4 separate regions of the Homo sapiens genome follow, and regions 1, 2 and 4 are each linked to region 3. Evidence: fine-mapped expression QTL. A gene starts in region 3. Each other region holds a variant in brackets. All regions are shown on one strand. Distances are between the middles of the regions. Region 1 overlaps TRIM35 (tripartite motif containing 35). Region 2 overlaps PTK2B (protein tyrosine kinase 2 beta). Region 3 holds the start of PTK2B (protein tyrosine kinase 2 beta). Region 4 overlaps PTK2B (protein tyrosine kinase 2 beta).

What was found. PIP is the estimated chance that this variant, and not a neighbour inherited with it, causes the effect.
Region 1: its variant is fine-mapped to the expression of PTK2B in whole blood (INTERVAL, PIP above 0.99).
Region 2: its variant is fine-mapped to the expression of PTK2B in whole blood (INTERVAL, PIP 0.91).
Region 4: its variant is fine-mapped to the expression of PTK2B in neutrophils (Naranbhai 2015, PIP 0.95).

Annotation. Positions count from the first base shown.
Region 1 is chr8:27,291,703-27,299,809 of GRCh38, reverse strand. TRIM35 (tripartite motif containing 35) reads left to right here. Exons shown (of 6, transcript NM_171982.5): 2 at 1,251-1,346; 3 at 5,500-5,730. Among named protein-coding and RNA genes, the nearest start is that of TRIM35, 16 kb to the left of the region's middle. The variant AC/C (reference allele first, on the strand shown) is at 4,987.
Region 2 is chr8:27,351,356-27,359,462 of GRCh38, reverse strand. The region is part of intron 1 of PTK2B (protein tyrosine kinase 2 beta); the gene reads right to left. Among named protein-coding and RNA genes, the nearest start is that of PTK2B, 30 kb to the right of the region's middle. RefSeq lists an enhancer at 7,152-7,211. The variant T/G (reference allele first, on the strand shown) is at 4,704.
Region 3 is chr8:27,321,724-27,329,830 of GRCh38, reverse strand. It overlaps PTK2B (protein tyrosine kinase 2 beta), which reads right to left and starts at 4,279. Exons shown (of 31, transcript NM_173176.3): 1 at 4,150-4,279. RefSeq lists a silencer at 2,196-2,392 and enhancers at 3,135-3,204, 2,550-3,379, 3,985-4,034, 4,085-4,234.
Region 4 is chr8:27,375,480-27,383,586 of GRCh38, reverse strand. The region is part of intron 1 of PTK2B (protein tyrosine kinase 2 beta); the gene reads right to left. Among named protein-coding and RNA genes, the nearest start is that of MIR6842, 54 kb to the left of the region's middle. RefSeq lists enhancers at 2,584-2,893, 3,144-3,203, 4,895-5,084, 7,462-7,591, 7,992-8,051. The variant CACACACACACACAG/G (reference allele first, on the strand shown) is at 4,972.

The DNA of each region.
Region 1 (8,107 bases), 30 kb after region 3:
TGCACTGGCCCTCTCCCAAGCTCTCCAAACATCTCATCCCTTTACAGCATCAGCCCAAAGTCCAGATTTGTCATCTAAATCAGGTCCAGATGGGAATGAGGCTTTGGGCGACACATCTGTATAATTTATTGCTGCATATCCAGTCACCCCGACATTTAGCAGCTTAAAACACTCTCATCTCACAGGAGGGAGGGATCACTGGGTGCTGTCTCAGCAGCTGCCTCCATAGCTGTCCAGGTTCACGTCCTTCCACATACTAGCTGTGTGCCCTTGGGCTGGTCATTTCCCTTCTGTGCCTCACTTTCTCATCTATAAATGGGGCCAATAATATTACTTATCTACTAGGGAGAAGTAATGATTAAATGACATAATTTCTCAAGTAATTGGTGTTGTCCCTGGCACAGAGTAAGTACTGAATAAATGATAACCATTTATAATTATTTGAATTATTTTTCTTAAGAAAAAACTTGAGAAGCTTTCTGAGAATGTAGATCGAAAAGGATAATGAGGGAGAAAAAATGATAGGCCTAAGATACAAGAGGCAGGAATCCAACCTAAAACACTCTAGTGGTTCTTCAAGTTGTCCAAGGACATCAGAAACAATCATTAAAGTTTAAGAAACAAAAACTACTAAACCAAAAGTATTTGTGCCTGCTGATTAAAGTATTCCGTGCGATACAAGCAGTGTTAGAATGTCAGGATGCAGGAGGGGTATGGAGGGGCATGTTGGGCATGTTGAGGTGAGGCCTCATGGGAGGTAACTGAACCCCGTGGGAAATGACTGGCTCCACCCCCATTGTCAGTCACCTCACATTAGAGATTGCAGACCCATTCAGTTTAGGAAACTGCAGAGGGAACCTATGACCACACTGTCTGCAGTTGTCCACACAGCTCAGGGATTCAGACCCAGCATGAACCAGCTTTTGGCCCACATGGGACACTCTTCTGGCCTGTGCTGTGACCAACATGAGAGAGAGCAGCTTGCTTCTTCTCAGCCCCATCTCCCAGTCTGTACCAGGCTGGGCTACAGGATGTCTGAGGGCTCTTTATCCCATGGATGTCTGATTCAGGATCAGGACCTTACTTACCATTTGTGCCCAGAGCACTTGGCATGGATGGGGTTAGGCAAATGCAGTTGAGTTACACTTGTGTTGAAGTGGAGTCCCAGTTGTAAATGTGATGTGTCTGCCCTCTCTGCCCAGCCTCCAGCCCTAACCTGTCTTCCTCCCTCTCTCTCATTCCCATGTCAGGCCAAGTGCAGGAACATGGAGCATGCACTGCGGGAGAAGGCCAAGGCCTTCTGGGCCATGCGGCGCTCCTATGAGGCCATCGCCAAGCACAATCAGGTGAGCGAACGATGGGGCCAAGTGGGAAGATTGGGTCCACTCAGGGCAGTCTGGGGAGGAGTGAAGATGTGTCAGCCGTGGCTTTGGCTCACATAACCCGCTGGGTAGAGGTCGGCTGCCTTACCTCTGATGGTCCTGTGCAGCCACGTCCTGGATGCTGACTGTGGCTTCTCTGCCTTGGCCCCTCTAAAGACCCAGGCGTGGTCATGCCAGCAGCCACAGGAGTGACTTAAAAAGCTACCAACACCATCTGCACTATGGCACATGCATCATATCACTGCCACCTGTGTGTTCAATGATGACCTGGGACTCATGTACTTTCTTGTTTTCTTTCAGTTCCCACATCCACTCCATCAGCAATCCTATTCCCCTATCTCCAAAGTATGTTATTTCTGTAAAACCCTCCACCTTTTGGTCCAGGTCATCATCATCTCTCACTGGGCCTCCTGCCTAGGGCCTCATGCTTTCATTCTTGTGCATTCTCCTTTCCATGGACTGGGGTGATCGTTTAGAAAAAAACACCAGCCGTGCCCCTCCTCTGCTTAAAACTGCCAGTGGCTTCCAGTCACCCTCAGTACCACCCAGATTCCTTACCATGGCCTCCAAGGCCATCTCCTGACCCTGCCTATCCTCAACCTCATTTACTTCTCTGCCTCACCTTCTTTCTGTCCCTTAAGCAAACTAAGTCTTCTCCCCAGAACACATGCCCAGCATCTTTGCCATTAAAATCTCAGCTCAGATGTTCTCTTAAAGAAGCTTTTCCTGATCATCCTCCTCTTTTACTCGATGGCATAATTTCCTGGTTTATTTTCTTAATGACACTTCATTACCTGTAATTACCTTTTGTTTTCTATTTGCTTTTTATCCCTTCCTGTCAAAATATAATGAAAACAGGGCACACTATTGCCAGTTATCTAGAGGAGTTCTTGGCACACAATAGGTGACCAATAAAAATTGTTGATTGAATGAGTGAAGTGGGTAGGTGACCAATAACTGTTAATCAAATGAATGAGTGGGCTCCCTCTGTCCCCATTCTGGTTGTTCTGCCTGGCACCCTCTCTTCCTCCAGGTCCTGTGTGGATTGGCAACCTTGTTTCTGACTGTTGATCTTGGCTCTGGTCTTTGGCTTTCTGAAGTGGTTGCTTCTAGTAATTACCACTCTGTTAGACTCATCTTAGCCACAGCTGAGCCATGCCTGGTCCAGGTTGCTGGGCGCTGTCCTCAGGAGCCTGCGGTCCCCTCCACCATGTGTCCATAGGTGAGGATTAGTCCCAGGAAAGAGCCTCATTAACATTTGGCTGTGGAGTTTACCCTGAGCCACAGAGCTGGTGGAACAGTGTGGAAGAAAGGATTATGTGACACACTGGGTGCCAGGGCAGTAACCGCAAAGCAGACCTATTTCCAAATCTAAGCCCAGTTCCCCAGCAAATCCCTCAACCCCCTCCAAGCTAATCCCCTCCTCTGTAAAAAGAGGGCAATTCCCTTTTACTAGGGTTTTTAAAAAAAAATTTAGATAAGATAATGCATACAAGTGCCCAACAGAGACAAGTCCTTAACATTTCTGATGTCTAATAGACCAACAAACTGGTGGGAGAGAGTTTTCACTTTGTTCAGTAGATTATTTTGTCATCCGATGTCAGAGCCATAAATACATGTTGAAATTCCAACTCCAAATAGCGATTACGAACCTGCTGTTGCTGGAGTTTGTTGAGTTGTTTTTCCAGTAGTCATCGTGGAGTCATGTAGCTTTATCATTGTTCTCTTACTTGGTTTCCTTCTGTGGCTAAAGCCATATGACTGGCTTGCCTTGTACAGGACTGGGTTGGGGATACTTAGGGAGTATCTGTCTGTCTGTGTGGTGGCACTGCCTGCCCATCCCAGGGAGTGTAGGAGTCCTGAGCTTTTTGCTGAGGCTAAGGGTAATGAGGTCACATGGGAAGCCCCTAGAATTCCAGCCTGATTAGTACTTTTTCTATTAAATTCAGTTATCAGGTCGATGAGGAAAGTGAAAGTTCTGGTGTTTGTTCCTTTACAGTGAGGCCGTCATTGCCCACGGTGAGTGGGCAGGAGTTGACCTTGCACTTGCTGGTTTTTCCTGCCATGCTGTGTTCTTGATGTTTTTGTGTGATAAGAATTACTGGGGAGAGGGAGAGCATCAGGATAAATAGCTAATGCATGCGGGGCTTAATGCCTAGGTGATGGGTTGACAGGTGCAGCAGACCACCATGGCGCACATTTACCTATGTAACAAACCTGCATGTCCTGCACATGTATCCTGGAACTTAAATGTAAAAAAAAAAAAAAAAAAAGAGAATCACCCTGGATTCTACTCTCTCCAATGCAGACATTATCAGTCTTTTCAGCCTGATAGGTTAACCATGCTGTTTGTCCTCATTTGCATTTCTTTGATTATTGGTAAGTTTGTACATCTTTTCACAAGCATAATAGTCATTTATGCTTCTTCTGTGAATGCTAATTCACATTCTTTTTTTCCCTTGGAATATTTGTCTTTTCTCTTAGTGGATTTGTAAGAGTGCTTTGTACATTAATAATAATAGCCATTTGTCATAAATGTTGCAAATATATTTCCTAGTTTGTCATTTCTTTTTGAGTGGATCATTCTCAATTTTTTTGGCCATTTTCATTTTTTCAGTGAATCCTTTTCGTATATTTTCAGAGCTGTAAACATACACACAGTCCCTGGCTTATGATTTTTTGACTTTACTGTGGTACGAAAGCAATATGCATTCAGTAGAAACTGTACTTTGAGTACCCATACAACCATTCTGTTTTTCCCCTTCAGTACAGTATTCAATAAATTACATGAGACACTCAGTGCTTTATTATGACATAGGCTTTGTGTTGGATGATTCTGCCCAAGTGTAGGCTAATGTGAGTGTCCTGGGCACGTTTAAGGTAGGCTAGGCTAACCTATGATGTTTTTAGTAGGTTAGGTGTATTCATTGCTTTGACTTAACTATTTTTCAACTTATGATGGGTTTATTGGGATGTAACCCCATCATAACTTGAGGAGCATCTGTATTTAACTTTCAGTCCAAAGATGAGTTTACTAACCTGCCATTGCCACAGCACACATTTTGAATGGTTTTTCCAACAGTTGTCATGGAATTGTATTTTTGTCTTTAACTTTATGATAGTCTCTTGCCATACACACCTCTTATTTTTCTGTGTATTCAGTTATCTCATTCTTTCTTCAAGGCTTCTCAGTTTCATACTGTGCCGAGGAATGTCTTTCTTATTCCAAGCTGAGAAATATTTATTTGCTTTTTCTTTCATTACATTTATGGTTTTATCTTCCCTTTTAAAAAACTTTTTGTGAGGCTGGGCACAGTGGCTCACGCTTGTAATCCCAGCACTTTGGGAGGCCGAGGCGGGCAGATCACCTTAAGTCAGGAGTTTGAGACCAGCCTGACCAACGTGGCAAAACCCCATCTCTACTAAAAAATACAAAAATTAGCTGGGCGTGGTGGCGTGTGCCTGTAGTCCCAGCTACTCGGGAGGCTGAGGCAGGGAAAATTGCTTGAACCCAGGAGGCAGAGGTTGCAGTGAGCCAAGATCACACCACTGCACTCCAGCCTAGGTGAAAGAGCGAGACTTAGTCTCAAAAAGAAAAAAAAAA[AC/C]AAACTTTTTGTGGTTGTGATTTGGAGTGTGTATATTATTTTAATGATTGTTTTAAAATGAATGCTTCCTACTGCTCTTTTGGTAAAGCCTCTGGATCAGACAAATTTTAAGTCCTAAGATTGGAAGGTAAATACTTAAAAAAAAATCATTGCTATTCGCAGCCATTCATTTCTATGATTCAGGACTTCCCTTGTTATGGTGCAACCTAAAGAAGGAACTGAACATTGTATGTAGATGAGGTTATAGTACTACAGTTGCCATCTATATAAGCTGTGATTTTATTTTTAAAAACCCTGTCAAAACAATCTAATATTAGGTTGTTGGACTTTCCCATTTGAAATCGGAACTTAGAAATTTGTGCTTATAAACTATTATGTTGATATTTTATCTGTAGGGGTTCTATACATGATTTATTTGAACATAAATTTCCTTTGCTAAAAATGGGAAAGTTGCTGGGCTATGGATGTCCTCTCCACATCTGACCCCTGACTCCTCCTGCTGTCTTCCGTAGGTGGAGGCTGCATGGCTGGAAGGCCGGATCCGGCAGGAGTTTGATAAGCTTCGCGAGTTCTTGAGAGTGGAGGAGCAGGCCATTCTGGATGCCATGGCCGAGGAGACAAGGCAGAAGCAACTTCTGGCCGACGAGAAGATGAAGCAGCTCACAGAGGAGACGGAGGTGCTGGCACATGAGATCGAGCGGCTGCAGATGGAGATGAAGGAGGACGACGTTTCTTTTCTCATGGTAAGGAGCTCAGCGTCTGGATTCAGTGACAGGGCCACATGTTCCAGGACCAGCTGGGAGCCATAGCCCACCAGCCCTGGCCAACGTCATCTTCCTGGAGCTTCCTGGGTACTGGCCTGGAGGAGCTCACAAGTAACCTGCTCTGCTTGTGTCATGAAACTAAAAAGACTTATCAGGGCGGAGTTCCTTGAAACCCTGTTATTTCTTCCTCGCTCTTCTTTTTTTTAGAGACAGGGTCTTGCTGTATCACCCAGGCTGGAGTACAGTGGGTGATTATAGCTCAGTGTAACCTCAAACTCATGGGCTCAAGTGATCCTCTCTCCTTAGCCTCCTGAGTAGCTGGGACTACAGGCACGAGCCACCATGCCCAACTAATTTTTTTCATTTTTTACCAGTCAGGTAGGGGTGAGGGGGGTCTCACTATGTTGCCCAAGCTGGTCTTGAATCCCTGGCCTCAAGTGATGCTTCCACCTTGGCCTCCCAGGTAGTTGGACTACTGGCGCACCACTGTGCCCAGCTCCTGTCTCTTCTTTCTTCCTTTCTCTTGCCCTCTCTCTTACTCTCATTTTTTTTCCGGTCTCTACCTTTTAATAAGATGAATTCTTTTAAAATCATTCAATTATTTAAATTTTTTATTTAAATATAATGCCTTGGCTTTCTGTCTTCTTAAGAAAAGGATGATTCCATTCTCTCTTTAAAAAAACAGTATTATTCATTTTTTTTTCCTTTTATTGATTTATTTCCTCCCCATGAGCCAGTGGTCCTTACAAATTTCCTACAGGGAAATTTCTGGGCTCGAAAGCTGGTCTGTAAACTGGCCAGGGTGGTGAGGTGTCTCTTGTACCTGGAAAACAGCTGACTGCTGTGGAAGGGGTGTCGCTGTAGAGTGGAGTGGGAGGCGACAGGGACAGTTATCTGTTCAGGCAGTGTCATCTCCTGGGTGGGTCCTTTAGGAGTTCTCCACCTCACTCAAAGCCTGGAACCATGAAGTCTCCTGTCTCAAAAATGTCCCTGATTATGAAATCATTCTGTGTTCAGAGCTGTCTCTAAAAAGAAAAATGAAGAAAAAAAAAAAAGAAAAAGAAAAATCATTTTGTGGGATCTAAAAGCTGTGTGTCTCGAGGATTCTGTTTAGGGAATTGGGAGTATTGTCTGCCCAGTACTCAGAGTGCTTTCAGGGATGATTTTGGTTTGTGACTCTTTTTTATTTTTTATTAACAACTTTATTGAGATATAATTTACATGCTAAACAATTCACCCATTTAAAATGTACCACTCAGTGATTTTTAGTATATACAGAGTTGTGCAACCATCACGACAATTTTAGAACATTTCATGCCTCCAAAAGCAGCCCTGCTTTAGCTGTCACTCCCCAGTTCCTCCTCCCACATAAAAACTGCTACCGAAATTGAGTCTAACAGAGTGGTAATTACTAGAATTAGCAGCCCCTGGCAACCACTAGTCTACATACTATCTATATGGATTTACCTGTTGTAGACATTTCAAATGCATGGAATTATATAACATGTAACCTTTTGTGACTGCCTTCTTTCAGTCAGCATATTTTGAAACATCATTCATGTTGTAGCATCTATCAGTACTTCATTCTTTTTTATGGCTGAATAATATTCCATGGCATAGATATATAATCATGCACTTCTTAGTGATGGGGATATGTTCTGAGAAATGTATTATTAGGCAGTTTCTTCATTATGCAAGTGTCATGGAGTGTGCTTACAGAAGCCTACATGGTGTAGCCTACTGCACACCTAGATTATATGGAATAGCCTTTTGCTCCTAGGCTACAAACCTGTACAGCACGTTGCTGCACTGAATACTGTAGGCAACTGGAGCCCACTGTTAAGTATTTGTATATCTAAACATAGAAAAAGTACAGTAAAAAACAGTGATATAATCTCATGGGACCATACCATAGTCATATATGTGGTTCCTTGTTGACTGAAACATCGTTACGTTGCACATGGCTATATTATATTTTATTGATTGATTTATCAATTGGTGGTTGCTGTGGTTTAAATATGTTCCCCAAAATTTATGTGTTACAAACTTAATCCCCAATGCAACAGTGTTGGGTGGTGGAGCCTAATAAGAAGTGATTGGGTCATGAGAGCCCTCATGAATGGGTTAATGTTGTTACTGGCAGAGTGGGTTAGTTATTGAGAGAGTGGGCTTGTTATAAAAGTGAGTTTGGGCCCCTCTTGCTCTCTTGCTCTTGGTCTTATGTGTAGTCTCTTGCCCTTCTTCCTTCTGCCATGGGATGACACAGCATGAGGGCTCTCATCAGATGCTGGTGCCATGCTCTTGGACTTTCCAGCTTCAGAACCACGAGTGAAATAAACTATTGTTTATAAATTAC
Region 2 (8,107 bases), 30 kb before region 3:
ACTGAAGTAAATGGAATAACTTAAGACAATAAAAAGTATATTTGCAAGGCCAGGTGCAGTGGCTCACGCCTGTAATCCCAGCACTTTGGGAGGCTGAGGCAGGCAGATCGCTTGAGGTCAGGAGTTTGAGACCAGCCTGGCCAATATGGTGAAACCCCTTCTCTACTAAAAATACAAAAAATTAACCAGGCATTGTGGTGCATGCCTGTAGTCCAGCTACTCGGGAGGCTGTGGCAGGAGAATTACTTGAACCTGGGAGGTGGAGGTTTCAGTGAGCTGAGATCGCGCCACTGCACTCCAGCCTGGGTGACAGAGCAAGACTATGTATGTTTCAAAAATATATATATTTGCAATATCTAAATAGAAAAAAAAGAAGGTATGCAAAGTCCAAGATAATAATCCTAATGGCTAAAATGGGGAGGGGAGATGTTGAAAAGAAGATAATACTATAATACCAGTGGACAACAGTTTGGGACATGAGAAGAGAAAGATTAGAGTCAAAGTGCCATAAAATCCTTCCAATTTGGTAAGGAGGATAATGATATTGATTAATGTTAGACCTTAAATTCAAGTATGTGTTAAAAAATTAAAATAATAGAAACCTATTATTAGGTTTTATTTTTAACCTATTTTTCCATTAAAATAATAGAAACCTAATATATAACTTCTAAACCAATAGGCTACAAGAGGAGAAAATAATAAACACATAATCAATACAGTGAAAGGCAAGAGGTGAGAAAAGGCAAAGATGAAGCATGGCAAACAAAATAATGTAGTATACATATACTAAATATATTAGAAGTCTTAATAAATAAAGAAGCTTAAATTGCCTGTTAAAAGACAAAGACACTTAGACTTAATTTTTTAAAAATCCAGCTATCTGTAGTTTACAAGAAGCAAACCTAAAAACATTAAGACATCAAAAGTTAAAAATAAAGAGACAGAAAAATATAAACCAGTTACTAAGTGAAAGTTGATATTGATATATAAAATAGCAAATAAGATTTGAAGAAAAACATTAAAAATATGATTATGAGGAATCATGTTAAAAAGGAAAAATTTGCCAAGAAGTTACAATCATAAGCTTATATGCACCAAAACACAGACAATTAAAAATATAAAGCAAAAATGGACAGAAATGCAAAAAGTATTGCTTCTTTTCTTCTTCATGGTTTCATTTGGCCTGAGTGCTACAAAACTGTGTAGCAGTCAACTCAACTGAGGATGGCTTAACTCAGCTGAACCTACAGTGCAGAGCTATATCCACAGCCCTGTGCTGCCCTGGGGGAATTTAGATGGTTCTAACCAATCTACCAAGGAGGGGAGCAAAGAGTGAGGATGAAGAGAACTAATGAGAAAAAGGGAACGTCTACTATGTTTAAGACATTGTGCTAAGAACTAAGTAAACCTTCTTATGCAACCCCATAGAAATCCAATGAGGTTGGCTTGGTTACCCCAATTACTACTAGTAACCCCAATTTACAGAGTAGAAACCGAGCTTCAAAGATATTAAGTGACTTTTCAGAGGTCACATGACTGGGGAGCTATAGAGTCTAAATTGCAGTCATCTGACATAATCTCCATGAGGCTAGGGACCATATTTTCACTCCATATCCCTAGCATGTAAAACTATGCCTGGCACAGATTAGGCACTTGATAAATATCAGATGAATGAATGAATGCAGCTGTAATTCCAAGCCTGTGCATTTTCTATTATGCCAGAGCACCTACTCTGTTATCTCACTTACTCTTGGCTATCTATATCTTTATCTCACTCAGATCTCCTCTTCAAAAAAGGCATCTCCTCTCTCTAACCTGACCCATTTCCCCTCTCTCATTCAGAGTTGACAAAGGAGAGAGAAGAAAGCCCAGTTTCACAACAAGAGACCCAATTTCCTTCAAAGCTGGTGGTTGGGAAATGATGCTCCTGATAGCGGTTAAGGGAGATGGCAGGCACGGGGTGGCCCCCTGCACTGGAGATTTGCAAGAAAATGAATTTCCCATTCTCTTCTGCTGTCAGTTGCTGGTTACCTCCCTATCCTACAAGATCATGAGAAGACCCCTGGAAATGATGTGAGGACCATGAGGGATTAATATTTAAACACCAACTGAAGTGGCTCTGGAACCATACAAGTGGTGAGAAAATTCTTGGAGACAGAAGAAGTGTCAGAGGAATTTTAATTTGTCAGTATTTTTTGTACTTTTTATTTTGAAAGAATTATAGACTCACAGGAAGTTGTACAAATAGCACATAGAGTCCTGAGTACCCTTGACTCATCTTCCCCTAATGGGAACACCTTGTAGAATAATAATATCAAAACCAGGAAACTGACATTCATATAATACTGTGACTGAACTACAGACCTGATCCCATTTTCATTATTTTTTTTACATGGATTCATTCGTATGTGTGGGTGTGTGTGGTATGTATGTAGTTCCATGCAATTTCATCCTGTGAACACACTCATGAGACCATCACCACAGTCAAGATACAGAACTGTTTCATCACCGTGAAAAGACTTCTTTGGGTTACCCCTTTTAGACACATTCGTGCCACCACCCATCTCCACAACCCCTAGTTTGCTCTCCATCTCTACAGTTTCATCTCTTAAAGGATGTGATGTCAATGGAATCATACAGTATGTGACTTTTTGAGATGAACATTTTCTTCATTCAGCATAATACCCTTGAGATCCATCCAGGTCGTTGCCCGTGTCAATAGTTTGTTCATTTTCATTGCTGAGTAGTATTTCATGGTGTGAATATACTAGTCTCCCATTAAAGGACATTTGCATTGTTTACGTTTTTCCGCTATTGACTGCAGCTCTTTGACAAGAGGGCTAGTCCTGCTTCAGGCTGCAGAGCCTTCAGAATTCCTGGTGAGCAGTGAGGATCTATACTGCATTCCATGAATTCACTGGCTTTTCAGCTGCAGTTCATCAGAGCCTTCAGAATTCCTCGTGAGCAGTGAGGATCTATACTGCATTCCATGAATTCATTGGCTTTTCAGCTGCAGTTCATTCTTATCAATCCTTCAAGTTTTAAGTAAAACACCAAGTATTCTGTGAAGTCTCTGTGTTGATAACCATCTCCCTGGCCAGACTCTTGCAGCTTCCTTACAATCCCATAGATGTCCTTTACTCTTTGCCCTCAGCTCTGGCCCAGGGCCCAATACGGTCAGTAAGCATTTGTTGAATCAATAGATCAACAGCAAAGCTGTCATCACAGTCTTTTCCTAATACAGGCCACCCCAACCTGCGATCATAACACATTGCTGGAAGCCACATAGAGAGGGACTGTCATCACTAAGGGGGCCATGTTTTCTTACTTGAACAGTGTTGTAATTATAATAGAGATAGAGCCACCAGTAGGGCTCTCAGACGGCTCCAAGGTGTTACTATTCTAGTATTCTAGATAATACTGGAACTTTTTTTTTTTTTTTGAGACAGTCTTGCACTGTCGCCTGGGCTGGAGTACAATGGCATGATCTTGGCTCACTGCTACCTCTGCCTCCCGGGTTCAAGCAATTCTCGGGCCTCAGCCTCCCAAGTAGCTGAGATTACAGGTGCCTGCCACCATGCCCAGCTAATTGTTTGTATTTTTAGTAGAGACAGGGTTTCACTATGTTGGCCAGGCTGGTCTCAAACTCCTGACCTTGTGATTCACTGGCCTCGGCCTCCCAAAGTGCTGGGATTACAGGCATGAGCCACCATGCGTAGCCTCAAACTTCTAAATATATAAGTGTATTTCTACAGATCTGATTATTTCACTAGGAGAGAAGCCTAGAGCTAGAATTACTGAGTCAGAAGGAATACACTCATATTTCTTAGTACATGCTGCCAAGTTGCTCTCCAGAAAGGTAGCTGTATTGGTTGCCTACTATTGCTGTAACAAATTACCACCAATTTAGTGGCTTAAAACAACACTAATTTATCTTACCATTCTGGTGGTCAGAAGTCCTAAAACCAAGGTGCCAGCAGGGTTGACTTCTTTCTGGGGTGCTAGGGGAGAATCCTTCTTCTTGTCTTTTCCAGCTCCTAGAGGCTACATTATTTGGCTCGCGGTTCCTTCCTCCATCTTCAAAACCAGCAGCATAGTGCCTTACAATCTCTCTCTTGTCTCTCTTCTCTCTCTCTTCCCTCCCTCTTTCTGACTTCTGCTTCTGTTGTTGCACTGCCTTCTCTTACTCTGACCTTCCTGCCTCTCTCTTAAAAGGACCCTTGTGATAACATTAGGTCCAACCGGATAATCCAAGATAATCTCCCCATTCCACTATCCTTAACTTAATTGCATCTGCAAAGTCTCTTTGGCATGTAAGGTAGCACACGCACAAGTTCTGGGATTAGGATGCGGACATCTTTGGGAGGTTGTTATTAGACAGCCTGTAGCAGAGTATTAGAGCTAATGCTCCTTTTGAATAAGAACAAAGTATAGTCTGGGGAGTTAAGAGGCAGAATCAAAAAGAGTCGTTTACTGTAAGAACATCATTCCCTCAAGACTGAAGAGCAAGGTGGTTTTTCAGCTCTAGACATAAGCAGTATAATAAAAATATCATCCTTGAAAATCAGGGATGATTCCGTCGGAAGACCATCCCTAATATTGACATTGGGTTCCAGCCCAGGAGAGACAGAACAAGGAGCAAACACACAAATTGGTTGGTGAGATCCTACAAGCAGGCCAATGAGACAAGGAAGGCAAGCTCA[T/G]TTACCTTCATAGAATAACAATCATCAAACAGCCCAGCGGTATGTAAATGATTTATTGACATATACTTCACACCCTCACTACCTGTTCTTTCTGCAAAGTTTTATTTTGTTCCCAGCTATAATTACACGCTGCCATTTTTCAAGCACTTCGGATGTCACTATTTTCCTGTTTTCCAAGTTTAACAGTCCTCCCAACAGTCAACATACCTGCCGGCCGCAAATCAAAAACTGCTTGCACATAGATTGCAGGTGACCTCAATTGTTTCATCTGTCTGCAACGTCTCCTTTCCCTGCTTGGGAGAATTTCACTGGCTTTCTTTGTGAGACTGTTCCTCCTCCCAGGCCAGCCTTGTGTGCTAGTGGAGACGGCTCATCACAGAACACCATCTCCTCTTCCTCCCCGTCCTGGCCTGGACCACAGGATGGGGCACATTAATCAAGAGGAAGCAAACACAGTACCCCACCCTTTTGGCTGTGGGGGTTAGTCCAGAAATGGACACACGATCTTAGCCAAACTAATCAGAGTTATTCTTTGGCATTTTTACTTTAGCTTGGGGAAAAGGGCTTTTCTCTGGGTGATAGGGCTATGGCTGGGAGCTCAGACACCATTAGCCACCAAGTTCCTTTCTTTTGGCACAAGTTGTTCTGAAAGAATTAAGCCAACATGTAATGACAGCCAGAGATGTGAGAGACAGAAGCAGAGGCAGAGGGGCAGACACAGAGATGTCTGAGGTTCTGGGATGAGGTCCTGATTCCCACCACACCTGAGTTCAGCTGCTTCCTGAATCTTCCCTTAATTTGGGTATGTGAGCCAAGGTGAATCCTCTCTTTTGGGTTTCTGTCATCTGCAACTAAAAGAGTGCTGGGACAATAAACAGGGGTGTGACACCTGCCTTTCCCTGCTTCATCTTCAATAGCAGGCCCATTTCTGCTGAGGCTCTTTGTCCCCTGCTCTTGGGAAATATCTTACAGAGCCACCCATAGTCAGGTCTAAGTGACTGATAAGGTTTACGGAGTTGGCACTCCAGGCTATTAACCTTCATGCAGCTGAGCAGTAGAAATCGTGCCTCCTGAACAGCCTCCCCTGGGAACAGCCCTACCCTAGTTGCCTCATCTGTTCAAGTGCTGTCTTGGTCTGCCATTACTAGGTAGATACAGGGCTGTGCTATGGTGACCACAGGATCAATGTGTGTGTGTGTTAGAGAGAGAGCGAGCATGCATGAGTGAATGAGTTAGGAGCTGTGTTTACTCACACTCACAGATCAGCGTGTGAGGGCATAGTTAGGCCAAGCTGGGCCTTTCCTATCCCATATGAAGAAAGGACAAGGAGGAGAAAATTTCACAGCAGATTGGTAAGCAATGCACCCTGCATCTGAGATGTCCTAGCAAAAAACAGCACTTTCTTGGACAAGGAGTGCCATCCCAAAGCCAAGGGTGACTGACTAGCCTGATGTGGTATCTCCCCATCCACTCCCTACTGCCCTTGAGTATTGGAGAAAAACACAGCCCCCAACATTAACAGCCCAACTGGTATGTAGCTTATGGCAAACTTATACCGTAAATCTTCTGGGTCTCTTCTGTAGTGGACGCTAAATATTTTTGGATTGCTAACTAAATATTTTTGCAATTAATCCCCTTTAATCCCAAGACTAGATGAGCAGTCCCGTGAAAATGTGGTTCTCCACTTCTCTGTATCCTTTAGGTGACTGTAGCCTGGGCTGGCTTAGGTGAAGGAGACCCCCATACTCTTTATTCAATCCTTTGTAACTGTTCTTGTTATGTAAAATGCTACAGTTCTTGTTCTAGAATCCATCCCCTTGAGTTTAGAATAATAATGTATTAGTCCATTTTCACACTGCTGATAAAGACATAACTGAGACTGGGCAATTTACAAAAGAAAGGGGTTTAATTGAACTTACAGTTCCACATGGCTAGGGAAGCCTCACAATTATGGCAGAAGGCAAGGAGGAGCAAGTCACGTCTTACATGGATGGCAACAGGCAAAAAGAGCTTGTGCAGGGAGACTTCCGTTTTTCAAAACCATCAGATCTCACAAGACATATTCACCATCATGAGAACAGTGTTGGAAAGACCTACCCACATGATTCAATTACCTCCCACCGGGTCCCTCCCACAACACATGAGAATTCAAGATGAGATTTGGGTGGGGACACAGCCAAACCATATCAAATAATGTGTATCCAAATAAGTGAAAGCTCCTTTCATAGCTGATTCTATAGCAAAAAGAAGTTTACAAGTGTAGGCTGGCCCAGATGACCGCCCCCCCTCCACCCCTGAAGACGTTAAGTAGATTGTGGTCTTGCTCCAACAAGCATTTAGAAGAGGTGAGATGGTTGGGAGGCTTTTCCTGTCTTTTGCTTTTGTTTTTTGCAGGAACACATGTTGGCCTTTCCTTGGCCTTCCATGCGTCATGCCTACACTGGAGACTATGAATTCTATAGGTGAGTAGGTGGGTGAAAAAAGCACTTTGGCAGCTTATCAAGATACGTGCACAGCACTGCTTTAGAAAAAGTAATGGGGTGATGGGGAGCCACCAGCCTTATGAATTGGTGAGAACTTTGAAAGCTAGAAGAGTCAGGGACAGCAGCGCTTGGAAGAGCAGAAGGGTGTTTGGTCAGCTGGGGAGAGGACAGGCAGCCCCCCCGCCGTGGGTCCCCTGAGTCAACCATGATGGGCACAGCAGAGCCGCTGCTGTCAGCTCCCTGCCCAGAGGAAGTGAAGCCCAAACAGCAGCCTGAGTCATATTTATTGAAGAGACCATGGGAACAAAAGCTGTAGACAGGAGCTTCTGCGGGGGATGGCATTCAAACTGCTTTTACCATCCCATTAGCAGTTTCTCTTTCCCTCCAGTGGATGGGCTACGTGGGAAGTGGGTTACGAAAGTCAAACAGAGGTTCCATTTTCACATTGCCCTTCAACGGGTGGTTTTAATCCTACATAACCAGGTGTCTTTTGAGAGATTTGCTGACTGCTGACATTTTAGGTGTAATGTTTCCCCATAGATAAGTCTATGTTTTATTCAAAAGATAATGTTGATGAAATTATCCTGGAGATTGTGAAATGTTGAAAATGGAAAGTTTTACATTGCAAAGACTAGTTGGAGGCATTAGTACACTTTTATTTATTTATTAATTAATTTATTTTTTTTGGTAAAGGATATTTTTGGAAACTCAGTTCTAGCCTCAGATGGAATCCATTAGGACCAGTAGAGGGATGGAAGTCAACAGATTCAGGGTCTAGACAAATTCTTTGTCTGTGTGGCTGTGGAACCTTAGGTAAGTCACTTTTATGCTTTCTTATTTTTGTATTTTTATTTTAAAGGCAAATGGAACATTTCTACAATCCCAGATTAATCACTTCTAACATCTTGGAGACCATTTTCT
Region 3 (8,107 bases):
ACTCAGGGGGTACCAAACCTGGGCTGGAACCCAGGCAGACTGACTGAGCCTGAGCTCTTGACCATCCGACTGCTTGGACAGATAAGGCATATCAGTGTTGCAGAGTCACCACTATCCCTGCTCTTTCTCCTTAACCCTGGAACTGACCCGTACTCTACAAGGAAACTCTTCATCCTCAAGCCAGCAAAACTTATCTTCATCACCACACTTTCAGCCCCGGGCACGTCGCAGCTCTGCACCTCTACTCCATCCCCCAATGTGGCCATTTACCTGGGAGGCCAGGGTCACATGGTCCTGAGACATATGGGTCCCAGGCAGGGGAAACTAGAGACTGAGTGACCTACCATGCAGGGTAGCCCCAGGGTAGCCTCCCTCCCCTCCCTAGCCTCACCATCAGTTTCCTTTGTCCTAGCAGTATTTGGGGTACATGGAGCTACTGTCGTCACTATGGAGAGCTAAGTGCCAAGGGACTTGGACTTTCTCCAGGGTCCTCTGCACGATGAAACATGGCCGGATCTGCAATGGGAAGACTCAGGCTGATACAGGTGGGAGTTTGTGTCTCTGAAGGATGCATGATGCTAGAAAGATTGCATACAGCCAGACGCGGTGGCTCACACCTGTAATCCTAGCACTTTGGGAGGCTGAGGCAGGCAGATCATGAGGTCAAGAAATTGAGACCCTCCTGGCCAACATGGCGAAACCCCGTCTCTACTAAAAATACAAAAATTAGCTGGACGTGGTGGTGCGTGCCTGTAATCCCAGCTACTCGGGAGGCTGAGGCAGGAGAATCACTTGAACCCAGGAGGCAGAGGTTGCAGTGAGCTGAGATCGCGCCACTGCACTCCAGCCTGGGCAACAGAGTGAGACTCCATCTCAAAAAAAAAAAAAGGTTGCACGCAAGGGCTCCTTCCTTGAAGATCTTCTCTAAGTTGGACACTGCCTAGTCTAGAATGAATTAGGTCCATCCTGGCTAGAGTTATGAGAAGGGCTATGCCTTCTGAACGACCTGCTTGGTCCCCAAACTGCCCTCACATCAAGGTTCACTCAATGTGGAATGCTGTTTCCCTGAGAATGTGCATGGGCTCTACAGCCATCCTCAGGGAATGACACGTGTCTTTTTATGCAGGACTTATCATAACCTTGATCTTGCAAATATTCAAGACACATGTCCAAGTGCAGGCTCATTTGAACGTTTCATCAGTGGAACACCTCTATCCATCTCACGCCATAGGGTCTCTCTCAACACCACCTGGGCAAACAATCCAAGGGCCTGGGGACAAAATGTTTATCACAGGGGGATGGGGAGATTTAGCCACTGGAAAGAAGGACCATTTTTAACCTAGCCGTTCCCACAAGGGAAACACACTTTCCATTTCCTCTTTCTCTTAACGAATTCTTAACTTCCTCTAGGTTCCCTTTTAGGAGGACCCTAATTTGTTGTTACAAATGCTCCCATTAAAGTCAAAATCCAGTTCATAAGGCACCTTCACTTCCTCTATCTCTTAGCGCTACTTTTCTAATAAGGAACTCATCCTAAAACTGGGAATCATGACAGCCAAATTTCATGGCGCATTTGTCTGCGCTGAATATTTTATCTGGATTCTCTACTTTAATTCATTCACATTTCCCTTCAGTTAATTCTACTTTGAGTCACTCTCTGCCCACCCACCATCCCTCAAGAAGAGTGTTATATCTCCACCCCTTGAAGCAGGTCATATGGGAAGGGAGTAGCAAAGCTAAAAACATAATGCAGACTCTGTCCCCAACCCAAGGGCTAACCCCACGAGTTCTCACTGGAAGCATGAACCCTACTATGTATTTCACCTGAGACCTCCAAGTGCTCACTTGTGGAAGTAAATGAACCCAAGCACTCTGTGGCTGTTGCTTTGCTCAACCCTGTGAAGGTGTTGCAAAATTCAATATGTACCATGTTTCCTTTAGTACTCACTAGGCAATTTACATACATTATCAGGGATCCTCCCAACCACCTGCACAAACAGATACTCCTGCCCTCATTTCAGAAAAGAGGATTCTGAGGGTCAGAGAAGCTCACCGGTCTACATGGATTTGAACCCAGATCTGTCTGGATTTAATGTCGTTTTTTCTGAGGTACCATACTCCTTCACCTGTATAGATGAATAAACTGACCAAGGAATTGATTTTTTGTTTTTTAAATGAGCTCATAATAAAATCCAGGAGGAATGGTTACAAGATAGACCTGAGACTGTTCTCAGAGTGCCTGGGCAGTTTCCAGCCTTTACTTCACAGCATTGCGCCAACCTCAGCTTCTCCTAGAGTAGGGTTGCCAGATAAATACAGGACACCCAGTTAAATGTGAATTTCAGAGAAACAGTGAATAATGTTTGAGTATAAGTATGTTCCATGTAGTTCATGAGACATATTTGTAGTGAAAAAAAAAACCATTGAGTGCTTATCTGAAATTCAAATCTGAGTGTCCCGTGCTTTTATTGGCTAAATCTGGCAATCTCTTCCTGCTGGGAAGTCTCCTGCCTGGCTCCAGGTCCCAAGTGTTGCTCCAACAGAAGTTGCCATGGCAGCCTGGCAGGCCTTCCAAAGCCTTCTAGAGCAGTCTCCACTCACCCCTGCAGCTTCCCCTCGCCCCTGCACGCTCTAGGTTCCCAACAAGCCCAGCTACTTTCATTTTCCTGGATGCCGCCCGCTGCTTCCAGCCTCCTGCTGCTTTTAGCCTCCAGTCTCTGCACTTGCTGTTCTTTCCCCTCTTCTCTTGTGCTAATTTCTAGTCATCCTTCAGCTCTCAATTTGGAGTCACTTCTGCCAGGACGCCCTCCTGGCCATTGCTGACTGGCTCCCCCCACAGCCCTCTAGTGCAGGGTTGGATAGTACCCTGCACCTTCCCCTGGCAGCCCTCCCTCAACCACCCGGTATCCCACACTGCCCTGGTGAGCAGAGGCCATGCCACACTCACCTTGTCCCCACACCTTGCACCTGGCCGCAGGTGGGAAGCCAGTGAGTGCCTCCTGAATGGATGACTGCAGACTGTCCCACCAATGCTGGGGCTCTCCAGTGTGACTACTTCCTTCCTCCCTTCTGTCTTTAGTCACTTTTTCATCAGTGTCCTCCTCCCCCTCCCCCAGAGTGGTTGGGAAAGACAGGGCCTTCAGCAACAGCACTTGGGGTGAACAGAGAGCATCCCACGTAGAGGGGCCTCCCAGCACCCACCACCACATCACACCACGTGCACTGCCCCAGTGGGCTCAGACCCAGCCACAGCGCAGCTTCCGAGTTCCTCCTGGCTAAAGCCACCTCTAGGCACAACTTTCTGCTCTTGTCCTTCTGCTGGCTCCTTAAATGAGCGGACTTGGATTTTGCTCCCAGTTTGGGGTATAGGGAGATGCCAGTGTCATGTGGTCGAGGCTTAGGGCAGGTGGCAGGGCTTGCAGAACATCACCCATATGCCGCTCCACGCTCACCCACCCAAAGCGGTGCCCACGCGCAGCCTGACAGCAGGCAGAGGCAGCTCTGAACTTAACCCTTGAGTGGCACTCAGGAGGCGGCTTCTCAAGATACCAGAATGGCCAGTGTTAACTACACACACACACACACACACACACACACACACACATACACACGAGCTCCCCTGTGCCCCAGAACACCCTTGCTTTCCTCCAGCCAGGGCTTGATTCAGAAGATGACCTCTCAGGTGCAAGGAGTGGCTGCAGGAGAGTCAGGGTGGGCTGGGGGTGAGACTATAACCCCTGGGGCTGCGGAAGGGCCCGGGAGGGAGCGGGGAGCGGGGGCAGGAGCTGAAACCCCGTGGCTCCCTAACCTGAGCTTTAGAGGCAGCAGCCTGGCTGTGCCCTCACACCGTCACCCCTAGCCTCCCCCAGCCTCCCCTGTCTGAATATGTTGAGAGGACAAAGAGGGAGAAACACCCTATAGTGTCAAATTTACTCCAAAAATAGAACCCCTCTTCCCCGCGGAAGGCTGGCGAGCTCCGGGCATGTGCACAGCACCCACGGCTCCGATTTCCTGGGTCTGGCCGTTTCTCCGGGAACTCCCAGCTCAGGTGCCCAGGATCCCGGAATTGTCCCCAACCCCTGCCACCCGGTCAAGCCTCCAACTTCTGCCGGGCGCAGCGCTCAGCCCTGGCTCGCGGGAGGGACTCACCCAGGGAGGCGCGGACTCCAGCGACTACTCCTCGGGCACCGCCAGGTGAGCCGGGACGGCGGCAAGTACAGGTAAGTCGGCCGGGCAGGTAGGTGTGCAACGGCTCCGGAGGCTGTGGCTGAGTAAAAGGGCTGACAGGTTAGATTCTCCCTCCTCCTCTGAGTTGTTAACCACACCCCTGCTGCTCTCCTCCCCACTTCCTTAAAGGGTGGGGTGTGTTGTCTGTGTGTGCCGGCTCCAGCCTCTTACCATAAACTCTGAAATAGACGCTGCCACCAATTCCCTGAGCGCCGGGCAGACCTGGGGGGCGATCTCTGCCATTCCCCCGGCCGCAAATGGGATCCTCGGATGTTATGTGCCCCTTGTGAGCAGTTAACTCCCCAATTCCTAACACCCCTCCATCCTCTGTCCACTCCACCTGCAGCCTTTTGGAGGCCAAAAGGTGTGTGTGAGGTGGGTGGGGGCGCAGGGCGGGCGGAGGAAACCAACTTCTCAGGCTGGTTCTCCCAAGACCCCCCGCAGTGGGAGATGTTATATCTACATGGTACTGAGCACTTGTGTCCTAATCTCTCCATGTCCTAAAGTGGCCCCAGTCCCTTTGCAGGCATGAAAAATCATAAATACCACTAGGGATTTTGGCAGAACCGGTCCAGGTCCCTGAACACAGAAGACCAGGTCCCTGAGCTGTGACTAAGTAGGGTCTGAGGACAGCACAAGAATAGTTAGAGATGCTGGACAGCCCCTTCCAGGGGCCCCGCCCAGAGGCTGGTCCCCTCTTTCCTCAGGCCGGTGATATGTGAGCAGGCACTCAAGGGCACTTAGCAACACTTCTTCCCTATCCCTAGGAAAACTCCAGACTTGCTCCTGAGTAGGAGGAGGAAGTGACCTGGACTTGGCATAAAGTGAAAAAAGTGGAGTGTACGCAGCATCATCCTCATCCTACAATGTCCTCTCCAGAGCCCCTGTCCCAAGCTTCTTTATTCTGTGTCCTGTGCAGGATTGGAATCTGATTCCCAGAGCTGCCCTGTTGCACAATTCTAGAGGATGCTATTCACAATGTACTTTCTGAGAATGGCGCCCCCTGGAGTTGTGCTGAGGAAGCACTCAGTTTCCAAGATTGCACTGACTCCTTCCCATTTCTGAAAAGAAACTGGAGACTTAGATAAGTTAACAAAGCTAGGAAGTCAATGTTTCTCAAAGTATAATTAGTGGACTACCCATAGCTATTGGCTGGATGTCACTCTGGGTCCGATGAAGATCAGACTCTCTGCAGCTAGGGCCCACCTGCCCAGCATGGGGCTCACAACCCATTGATGGGCACTGCCAGCCTTGACAGCTGGAGCCCCCCCACCCCTTCCCATTTGTGCTATTCACAGATTTGTCACGTTCCCAGCACTCAGCATTTTGGAGGTAATCTTGGTGACTACACAGCGGTCAGCAGGTCAGAAGGTGGTCAGGTGGGAGAACTTGGCCAGGGATGGAGAGGCAAGTCAGACAGAGGTACACTGAAGTTAGCAGGGAAGGTGTGGGGATGAGGAGGCAGGTAATTGACTACATGGCAAGGACATGGTCAGAGGGCATCTGACAGTGGGTGTCCCCTCCGTATTCTTGCGCTTGGAAATGAAGTGATGAAGGCTGAGTGGCACAAAAGTTAGATACCTGGGTGAGTTGTTGAGAGTCTGTACTAGGAGGTGGCAGTGGGAACTAAAAGCAAAGACAATCAAGACCTGTTTAAGAAAAGGAGAGTTTGTGTGTGCTGCCCCTGTGTGGCCACATAAATGAACTACAATCTTATCTTGCTGGGACCAATTCTGGGAAAGGTGAGTTTTCAGAGGTTGTTGAATTCTTCAGCACTTTAAAAAAAGAATCTCCCAAATCTACCTCACAGAATCATAAACCCATAGCTTTTTAAATGAAAAAGACATTGAGAAACTCTCTGGGGTGGCCAACTCCGCCATCAGGTCTCCCTAGGTTCTGTCCAGTGTCATGTACAAGCAACTCAGGTGACAAGGTCATGCATTTCTGCCTGTTACTGCCTTTTAAAAAAACCCATCAGAAATGCCTCAGGAGCCCTCAAATTCCATGGAAATCCCTAAAAGACACTATCCATGGCGATGCTCTCCATATGGCATAAGTTGCAATAATGATCTACCCCAGTTAGAGAAGAAAAATATTTCCCTTCTACTTCTGTATCTCAAGCTGACCAAGTGCCATGTGGGAGGCCCTAATTGTGGGGGTGTTGGGGGGATGCATACCTGGATCAGAAGAAGGAGAAAACTGTAATGAAAAAGGCCTTTGAACAAATGTCCTTTCAGCTGCTGGACTCTTCCATTTGGATGTTCCACTCTTACCCCAAACTCAGGTCTATAACCCTGGCTCATATTGCTCTTCAAACAAGCCCCGTTCCAGCCCTCCCTGTGAATGTCAACAAAAGAGAAGTCACCTTTGACTCTCCCTCTCCCTCCTTACCCTGCAGCCATGCAATCTCCAATCTCTAAGTCCTGGGAGTCCCACAAACTTTTTTCCTATTCCTCGTTTTCTTTCCTGTCCTATTGACCCATCCTGGTTCAGGTTCTCTTTTCTTATCTTTTCACTAACTGGAGATCACAAAGGTGGTTGAGCTGGTGATTAACTTTTGGGATGGCATTTGAAACCACAAGAATGGATAAACTTGTCTAAGGCAAGAGTCAGAGACAGCAGAGGACTTCAAGTGAAGCTCTTACCAGGAGCAAATGAATGAAGAGCCAAAGGTCAAGTGGGGTGGGCTGATAAGTAAACTGAAAGTGAAGACACAGAGGCGGCACGCGCTGATGAGTCCTGGAAAGCTTGACTGCCAAGGGCAATTGAGACCAGGGGATATTGGAGGGGGTCGTGGGTTGAAAGAGGACTGATTTGTCATTTAGGATGATAGCCAGTAGAGCAGGTTTCAATGCTCACAGGAAGGATCCAGTCAAGAGGGAAGAGGTTGTGACTTTGGACATGCGAATCCATCTTTCTGAGCTTTTATTTCCTAATCTAGAAAAGTAGAAAAATAAGTATTATCTGTTCTACCTGTTTCCCAGGGTATTGTGAAGCCCAAATTAAGTGATAGGTGTACAAATGCTATGAAAAATTCTATAGCTATAATTTTTAGAAATGATAGCAATTAAAGTAAGCTTTATGGGGAGATAGTACATACATACCTGCCATATAGTTTATCAAGTGTTCACTCTGTGCCAAGAACTTTCATCTGCCGTCTAGCTTGTCTTCACAACCGTCTATGAAGTTGCTAGTCCTATTCCTGGTTTGCAGAAAGGAAAAGGAAGCTTGGATAAGGTAAATAAATTATTCACAGGCTCCCAGGTGGTAAAGAGCAAAACCCATCATTGGCAGGGCTGCGACATTATGTAACTGGCATCTCTCCATTGTAAATGATGGAATTTAAATTACATCATGTAAATTTACTATTATGTAGAATAAATTTTATTTTAAAAGAACAGTATGGTTATAAGTATTCTAACAAAAAAAATGGATAAATACAAAAACTAGCTGGGCATAGTGGTGTATGCCTGTAGTCCCAGCTCCTTGGTGGGGCTGAGGCAGGAGAATCGCTTGAACCTGGGAGGCAGAGGTTACAGTGAGCTATAATCATGCCACTGCACTCCAGCCTGGGTGACAGAGTGATAGTCCATTTAAAAAAAAAAAGGGACAAAGAAAAACTTATGGGTACAAGTACTGAAAAAAGTACTTCATCACCAAGGGATGTCTACCTCTAATTTAACCAGACATCACTATGTTTACGAAGTGGGCCACAGTTGAGGCCAAAATAAGTTGAGTATGGCTTGAATAGAACTCAAAATCATGCCCTCAACCTAAAAAAGAACTTTCTCTTTTCTTTCCTTAATATTGGAATCCCTGACTTTCAGATGGTCACAGCCTGCCCAAAATGAAGGCTACATTTCCCAGTCTCCCTTGCATG
Region 4 (8,107 bases), 54 kb before region 3:
ATAAAACACTGATGAAAGAAACAGAGGAGGCCAGGCGCGGTGGCTCACACCTGTAATCCCAGCACTTTGGGAGGTCAAGGTGGGCAGATCACGAGGTCAGGAGCTCGAGACCAGCCATTTCGAGACCAGCCTGGCCAACGTGGTGACACCCCGTCTCTACTAAAAATACAAAAATTATCCAGGCCTGGTGGCACGTGCCTGTAATCCCAGATACTTGGGAGGCTGAGACAGGAGAATTGCTTGAACCAGGAGGCAGAAGTTGCAGTGAGCCACGATTGCACCACAGCACTCCAGCTTGGGTGACAGAACAAGACTCCATCTCGGCGTGTGTTGGGAGAGTGGGGGGGTGGGAAGAATTAGAAGAGGACACACACACAAAATGGAAAAATGTTCCATGTTCATGGATTGGAATAATTAATATTGTTAAAATGACCATACTACCTAAAGCGCTCTACGAATTCCATGCAACCCCCATCAAAAGACCAATGATATTCTTCACAGAAATATGATAGAAAAGACAATCTTAAAGTTCATGTAGAATCAAAAAATACCCCAAATAGCCAAAGCAATTCTGAGCAAAAAGAGCAAAGCTGGAGGCATCACACTACCTGATTTCAAAAATACTACAAAGCTAAAGTAACCAAAATAGCATGGTACTGATATAAAAACAGACACACAGACAAATGAAACAGAATAGAGAACCCAGAAATACATCCACATATTTATAGCTAACTGATTTTCAACAAAGATGCCAAGAACATACATTGGGAAAAAGACAGTGTTTTCAATAAATGGTGCTGAAAAATCTGAATAACCATATGCAGAAGAATGAAACTAGATCCCTATCTCTCACTATACATGAAATCAACTCAGAATAAGGACTAAAATGTGAGATTCAAAACTATAAAACTACTAGAAGAAAGCAGGGTAAATCCTTCGGGACATTGGTCTGGGCAAATATTTTGCAGGTAAGACTTCAAAAACACAGGTAACAGAAGCAAAAATAGGCACATGGGATTAAAAAAAAAAACAGAGACAGCATCTCACTATGTTGCCCAGGCTTATCTTGAACTCCTGGCTTCAAGCAATCCTCCTGTCTTGACCTCCCAATGACAAATGGGATTGTATCAAGCTACAAGCTTCTGCACAGCAAAGGAAACAACTGACAGAGTGGACCAGGCAACCTGTAGAATGGGAGAAAATATGTGAAAACCGTTCATCCAACAAGGGACTGATATCCAGGATACATGAGGAACTCAAACAACTCAATGGTAAATAATAATAATTTTTTTTTAATGAGCAAAGTATCTGAAAGGACATTTCTCAAAAGAAGACATATAACCAGGTGTGGTGGCTCACACCTATAATCCCAGCACTTTGGAAGGCCAAGGTGGATGGATGACTTGAGGACAGGAGTTCAAGACCAGCCTGGCCAACATGGGGAAAGCCCCTCTCTATTAAAAATTCAAAAATTAGCTGGGCATGGTGGTGCACCTGTAATCCTAGCTACTCCAATGGCCGAGGCACGAGAATCATTGGAACCCAGGAGGCAAAGGTTGCAGTGAGCCGAGATCATGCCACTGCATTCCAGCCTGGGCAACAGAGTGAGACTCCGTCTCAGAAAAACAAAGAAGACATAGAAATGGCCAACAGATAAATGAAAATATGCTCGATATCACTAATCATAAGGGAAATATGAATCAAAACTACAATGAGATAGCATCTCACCCAGTTAGAATGGCTATTATCAAAAAGACAAAAAATAACAAATGCTGGTGAGGATGTTGAGAAAAGAGAACTCCTAAACGCTATTGGTGGGAATGTAAATTAGTATAACCATTACGGGGAACCGTATGGAGATTCCTCAAAAAAACTACAAATAGAACTAGAACTACCATATGATCTAGCAATCCCACTACTAGGGATTTTTTCCAGAGGAAATTAAATCATTATGTCAAAGAGATATCTGCACGTCCACATTGATTGCAGCACTACTCACAATAGCCAAAACAGGAAATCAACCGAAGTGCCCATCAACAGATGGAGTGCTATTTAGCCATGAAAAAGAATAAAATCTTGTCATTCACAACAACATGGATGAGCCTGGAGGATGTTATGTTAAGTGAAATAAGTCAGGCACAGAAAGAGAAATACTATATTTTCTCACCCATAGGTGGGAGCTAAAAAAGTTGAGCTCACAGAAGTAGACAGAATCGTGGTTATAATAGGCTGGGAAGGGCAGGGTGGAAGGTGGATGGAGAGAGGTTGGTTAATGGATACCAAATTAAAGCTAGATAGGAGGACTAAGTGCTAATGTTCTGTAGCTCTGTAGGGTGACTAGAGTCAATAATTTATTGTATATTTTTAAATAGAAGAGAGGATTCTGGATATTCCCAACACAAAGAAATGATAAATGCTTTCCATGATGAATATGGTAATTACTCTGATTTGATTATTACACAGAGTATACATGTATTCAAATATCATTCTGTACCCCATAAATATGTACAGTTATTATGCATAAATTTAAAAAATTACTAAAATTAAAAAAATCAACTCTCTTAGCCAATCTGAAGTATCTAATACAGCATACTTAGGTACAGTCACCATGCTGTGCATTAGATCTCTGGGACTTACTCATTCTACGTAAATAACTTTGTCCCCTTTGACCAACACCTCCCTCTTTCCCCACCTTCCTAACATCTCAGGTGATTCTGGTACCCACCCGGTGAGGCTGAAGAATGGCTGGCTTGGCCCTCAACTCACTGTGAGAACTGAATCGAGAGAGACTTACTACATGGTGAGGCCTCTCCACTGGGACCCAGGTCTCCCAGTTCCCAGGCTGCAGGCCTCCCTCCCAGGGCGGAGCTCGGCAAACATTTGGTGCCACGATGGATCTCAGGGAGTGACAAGTCTCAAAGGCAGGCCCTTCCTGGGTGTCTCTGAGTCTCTTATTTTAGAGCAGAGTTGTGGTTTCAGTTTTAGTTTCTTGTCGTTACCCAAGCCCTTTATTGGGAAAAAAGGCGCTTGGGTAAAAAGAGAAAAAAAAAATAGGTGTTTTCAATCATTCAGCGTTCAGAAAATTTGGGGGAACTTTGGCCTTTAAAATTCCAGCCACGAGGCTTCCAAAGTAGGGAAACCCTGCATGTGGTAGCGAGAAATCCCCCTGCAGGCAGCTCTTCTCTGGCAAGTCTCCCCTGGCACAACTCACATGGTAGCAGGAGTTTTCCTCCCTGGTGAAAAACATCAAATAAAATACAAAGGGAAAACCCAGCTGAAAATTTCCTGAGCAAGGTCACAAAATGACTGCTATCCTTTCAGAAGAAAGGTAGGAGAAAAAGGTCTCAGGGATCCAAAATCAGACATGAACACAGCACCAGGAAGCCAGGGCTGGGCAGAGAAAGACGTGACCCCGAGAGTCTCCTGTGGATCATGATGTGAGTAGCAAGTCCCTGAGAATAGGAGCTTATGGACAGAAAGCTCAGCAATGTGTCGTCCAAACAATAATAAACAACAATAACAAAAACAACATCAAAAAAGCACAGGGCCAGGTGCAGTGGCTCATGCCTGTAATCCCAGCACTTTGGGATGCCAAGGCGGGCAGATTGCCTGAACTCAGGAGTTCGAAACCACCCTGGGCAACATGGTGAAACCCCGTCTCTACTAAAATACAAAAAAATTAGCTGGGCATGGTGACGGGAGCCTATAATCCCAGTTACTCAAGAGGCTGAGGTGGGAGAATCGCTTGAGCCCAGGAGGCAGAGGTTGCAGTGAGCCAAGATCACGCCATTGCAGTCCAGTTTTTTTAGATACCATCTCAAAAATAAAATGCACAGATTTTTCCCTGCGATGCTGTTCTCACCTGGATGGAGAGACTCACTCGTAAATTAACTTGCATGTGCTAAAAGGTAAGTAATGAGGAGACTACTTAGGCATATTCAATTAAGGGAATATGAAGATTCCAGAGATTATATGCAAATTATCTATGGAAATGTGCTCCTATGGTTACAGCTGAGTTGTACACTGAAGGAAAACAGAGAAATTAAAACAGCTGTGGTAGGCTGGGTGTGGTGGCTCACGCCTGTAATCCTAGCACTTTGGGAGGCCGAGGTAGGTAGATCACTTGAGCCCAGAAGTTTGAGACCAGCCTGGGCCACAGGCAAGACTCCTATCTCTACAAAAAATTTTTAAAAAGACCCCGGCATGGTGGCATGTGCCTGTAGTCCCAGCTACCCAGGTGGGTGAGGTGGCCTAGGAGTTCAAAGCTCAGTGAGCTATGACTGTGCCATTGCACTCCAGCCTGGGCGACAGAATGAGACCCTGTCTCCAAAAGCAAACAAAAAACAGTGGTTGCAGAGAGGAAATTAAATGTTCCCTTTTAATGTTGGTTTGATTTCCATGATACATCTAAAGACTCACTTCGGCTACCTCTTTAAATACATTAGACCTAAGCCTGAAAAGAATGAGAAGCCTGCGACCTACTTCCAGCTCCCAAGCACTGACATTCCCCATGCAGCCACGTTGGGAACAGGGCAGTCAGAATCCTGAATCCTGGGTTTCATCTCTATAAAAATCGGGCATCCAGCTCCCCCGTGTCGGATGTGAGTCTATGTTTGGCATAACGGTGCCGGGGCCCTTTCTTCCTTTAGCTCTTTGTTCATTGAGGTTTCTGAAGCACACAGGAAGTCAGAAAAAAGAACAGCAACCCACTTCTCCACAGCCTCACCACAGACAAGAGGCAGCAGGGAGGAGACAGCCAGTGAGGAGGGGAACTGTGTGCTGCTCTCCCCTAGCTCCACTTGGGGTGGGGGATAAGATGAAGCAGGTGGGAGTAGAGTGTGGGGGTTATGTCTACACCCCAGTTTTCAGGAGCCCCAGAAGGAACCAAGTTCTACTTTTCTGCTTCTATTGACAGAATATTCTGATTGCCTTGTGTACACACACACACACACACACACACACACACACACA[CACACACACACACAG/G]ATAAGCTGTAAGATTTTATACTCTTGAATCATGTGCAACTTAAACCCCAGAGCAACACTCGGATAACTTGGAGACATCACCTTATCTATCTGACCTCAGCTTTTCTCATCTAAAAAGTGAGGGGATTAGGTGAGGGGATTAGGTGAGAGGGACGTTCTTCCAACAGTCTTGCATATGAATATTTCATACTGTTTAAAGTGATCGTTCAGCTCCTGAAGTGGTTTATTTCTTCATTGTTTGGCTGAAAATACTTCCATATTTGCAGAACCCCCCTGAATCCCTCACCATAGCCCAAGATTCCTTAAGGTCTGGGCTAAAGCCCCTGGACTAGATTTGATGCTTCCAGGATCATTGTCTTGGTCTATAATTCTGGGAGCTAAACTCGTTAGCTACAAGGAGAGACCTTGGTTGTTGAGGGAGATATGAGACAGTGGAGGGAAGAAAAGGTGAGGGAGAGAAAAGCAGAAAGAAAGAAAAAGATAGAAGGAGATATTGATAAAAGAGAAAAGTAACAACTAAGATTGTAAACTCACCAATGGCAGGAACCAAAGCTAAAGGGAATGTCAGATAATTTGTTTTTACTTCCCTCGTTTTTACAAGTGAGGGAACCAAAGGTAGGGATGTTCCCTTCCCCAAAGTAAATGCCCTGGGGTGTGCTAGCTTTCAAGTAATCCCTTGAGGACTGACTATGCAGGTGATGCCAGGAATAGTGTTAAGTAGGGGAGGAGGTTTACATTTTCCAGAACCTTCTCCACCTGCACTCAACACCTCCTAATCTTTACCTGTGAACTGTGCTCTTGGGGGAGGCTCCTTCCAGCTAGAGATAATGTGCCCACCTGTTTAGAAATGGAGTCTCCATTTTAATGTAATGGCGCCCTTCAGTAAAAATACCCTCCCGTGACACAGGCAGTGCATGTGACAGAGAGCTCACAGTGTACTAGCTCTTTGTCTTCTCTCCTGCCTCCGGAGGTGGCCCTGGCCCCTTTACAGGAAGGAGACACTGGCTCAGAAAGGGTTAAGACCACACTCAGCTGGAGACAGAATCAGGACTAGAACTAAGACCTCCCCATGGCAGCCAAAGAAGGATGCCAGGTGTGCAAAGTTCTTATCACACTGGCATGAAACAAGCACATTTCTGGAGCTCTGTCATGGCCCAGTCTAATCATCTGGGACAAATCCTGTTACCTCCCTGAATCTCAGTGTACGTGCCCATAAAATTGGGCATGTTAGCACTATCTTTCCCAGAACTGTTGTGAACATGAGTAAAAATAATATCCATCATGTACGTGGTAAACTACACATACCCAACACTGAGTGTTGGCCGTGATCACAGATCACCCAAGTTCCTCTGGTTCCTTCAAGCATCTGCATATTTCAATGACAGGCGCCCCTTTTGGCAAAAACAACCTATCTATTCCATTTCTGGTTGGTTTTCAGTACCAAAGAGGTCTTTCCTAGGATATGTTAAAGGAGTTTTTCTACACCTTTTACCCGCAGGGGGCAGCTCTGCCTCTGGAGCTGTGAGACACAAGTTGCACCCTCCTCACTCCCACTTTGCACAGCGAGTCTCTGGTTCTAAACGCAGGAGTGAAAATGTTATAGGAAAGGGGTCCCGATCCAGACCCCAAGAGAAGTTTCTTGAATCTCACACAAGAAAGAATTGAGGGTGAGTCCATAAAGTGAAAGCAAGTTTATTAAGAAAGTAAAGGAATAAGAGAATGGCTACTCCATAGACACAGCAGTCTTGAAGGCTGCTGTTTGCCCATTTTTATAGTTATTTCTTGATGACATGCTAAACAAAGGGTGGATTATTCATGCCTCCCCTTTTTAGACCAGAAATTTTAGATCAGGGTAATTTCCTGACATTTCTATGGCATTTGTAAACTGTCGTGGCACTGGTGGGAGTGTAGCAGTGAGGATGACCAGAGGACACTCTCATCGCCATCTTGATTTTGGTAGGTTTTGGCCGGCTTCTTTACTGTAACCTGTTTTATCAGCAAGGTCTTTATGACCTGTATCTTGTGCTGACTTCCTATCTCACCCTGTGACTTAGAATGCCTTCATCATCTGGGAATGCAACACAATAGGTCTCAGCCTCATTTTACCTAGCTCCTGTTTAAGATGGAGTTGCTCTGGTTCACATGCCTCTGACAAAAAGAAACATGAGGGTTTGTGTGGTTCAAGATCATTCCAGTCCAGGCCCACCTGCTGCTCAGACACATTTTAGTCCCAACCTCAAGAAGCCCACAGGAATCAATTTGGACAAGATCTGCTGACACCAGTGATGATCACCAGAAGTCTCCAAAGACTGCTCCCTCCCAGAACGGCCAATGGCACTAGTTGGGGTGGGGGCAGCCAAGCCTATTGGTCCTGCCCAGATTGGCCTGGCCTGAACCCACTCTACAGCTCCCTGTTGTCTGGGTCTAGGTCTTGGGTTCTGAGGACTTTAGACCTGAATGGGCTTTGAAGGTCAAGCACCCCTGGACTCTCTCCCATGGCTTTACAGCCCACACCTGGGGCTCCTGTCTGATGCTTCGTCCACTCTGAGCTCTGGTCTCTGCTCAGCCTCAAGCTGAGGTGGCAACCACAAACCTCTTCATCCCACAGCACGGCTGAGCAGACTAACCTCCCACTCTTGGGTTCTATTCTCGGCTGTCAACATTGGCATCATGTGTCAAGTGCCTAATTGCATGGCCGTGTGCCTGGTGAGGGGAATGAAGGCTCCAGAACACAGGGTACCCTGCTCACCAGTGCAGCCCACGGCTCTTCTGAGAACAAACAGGTCGTACAGGCAGAATACTAAACCAGACATAAGTGGACATGGCACGCTTCTATATAGCTGGGGGCACCCGTGCATAACTGGGGAGGAGGGAGGTGCCCACTCGGGGAGAGGCACATGGGACAGGGAAAGAACACGGCCCCCGGAGGCAGGAGACGTGGGGTCTGGTTCTCAGCCCTTCACTACCTAGTAGCTTATGACCAGGAGGCAGTCAATGAGAGCACTGTAGGATTTAACACTGGAAGGGTCTGGTGGATTCTAGGACCTGGATGTTCCTCGAGGGAAACACATATGTTCTGCCCTGGATCTACAGGTCAGAACTAGTGGGTGGGGCAAAGGGAT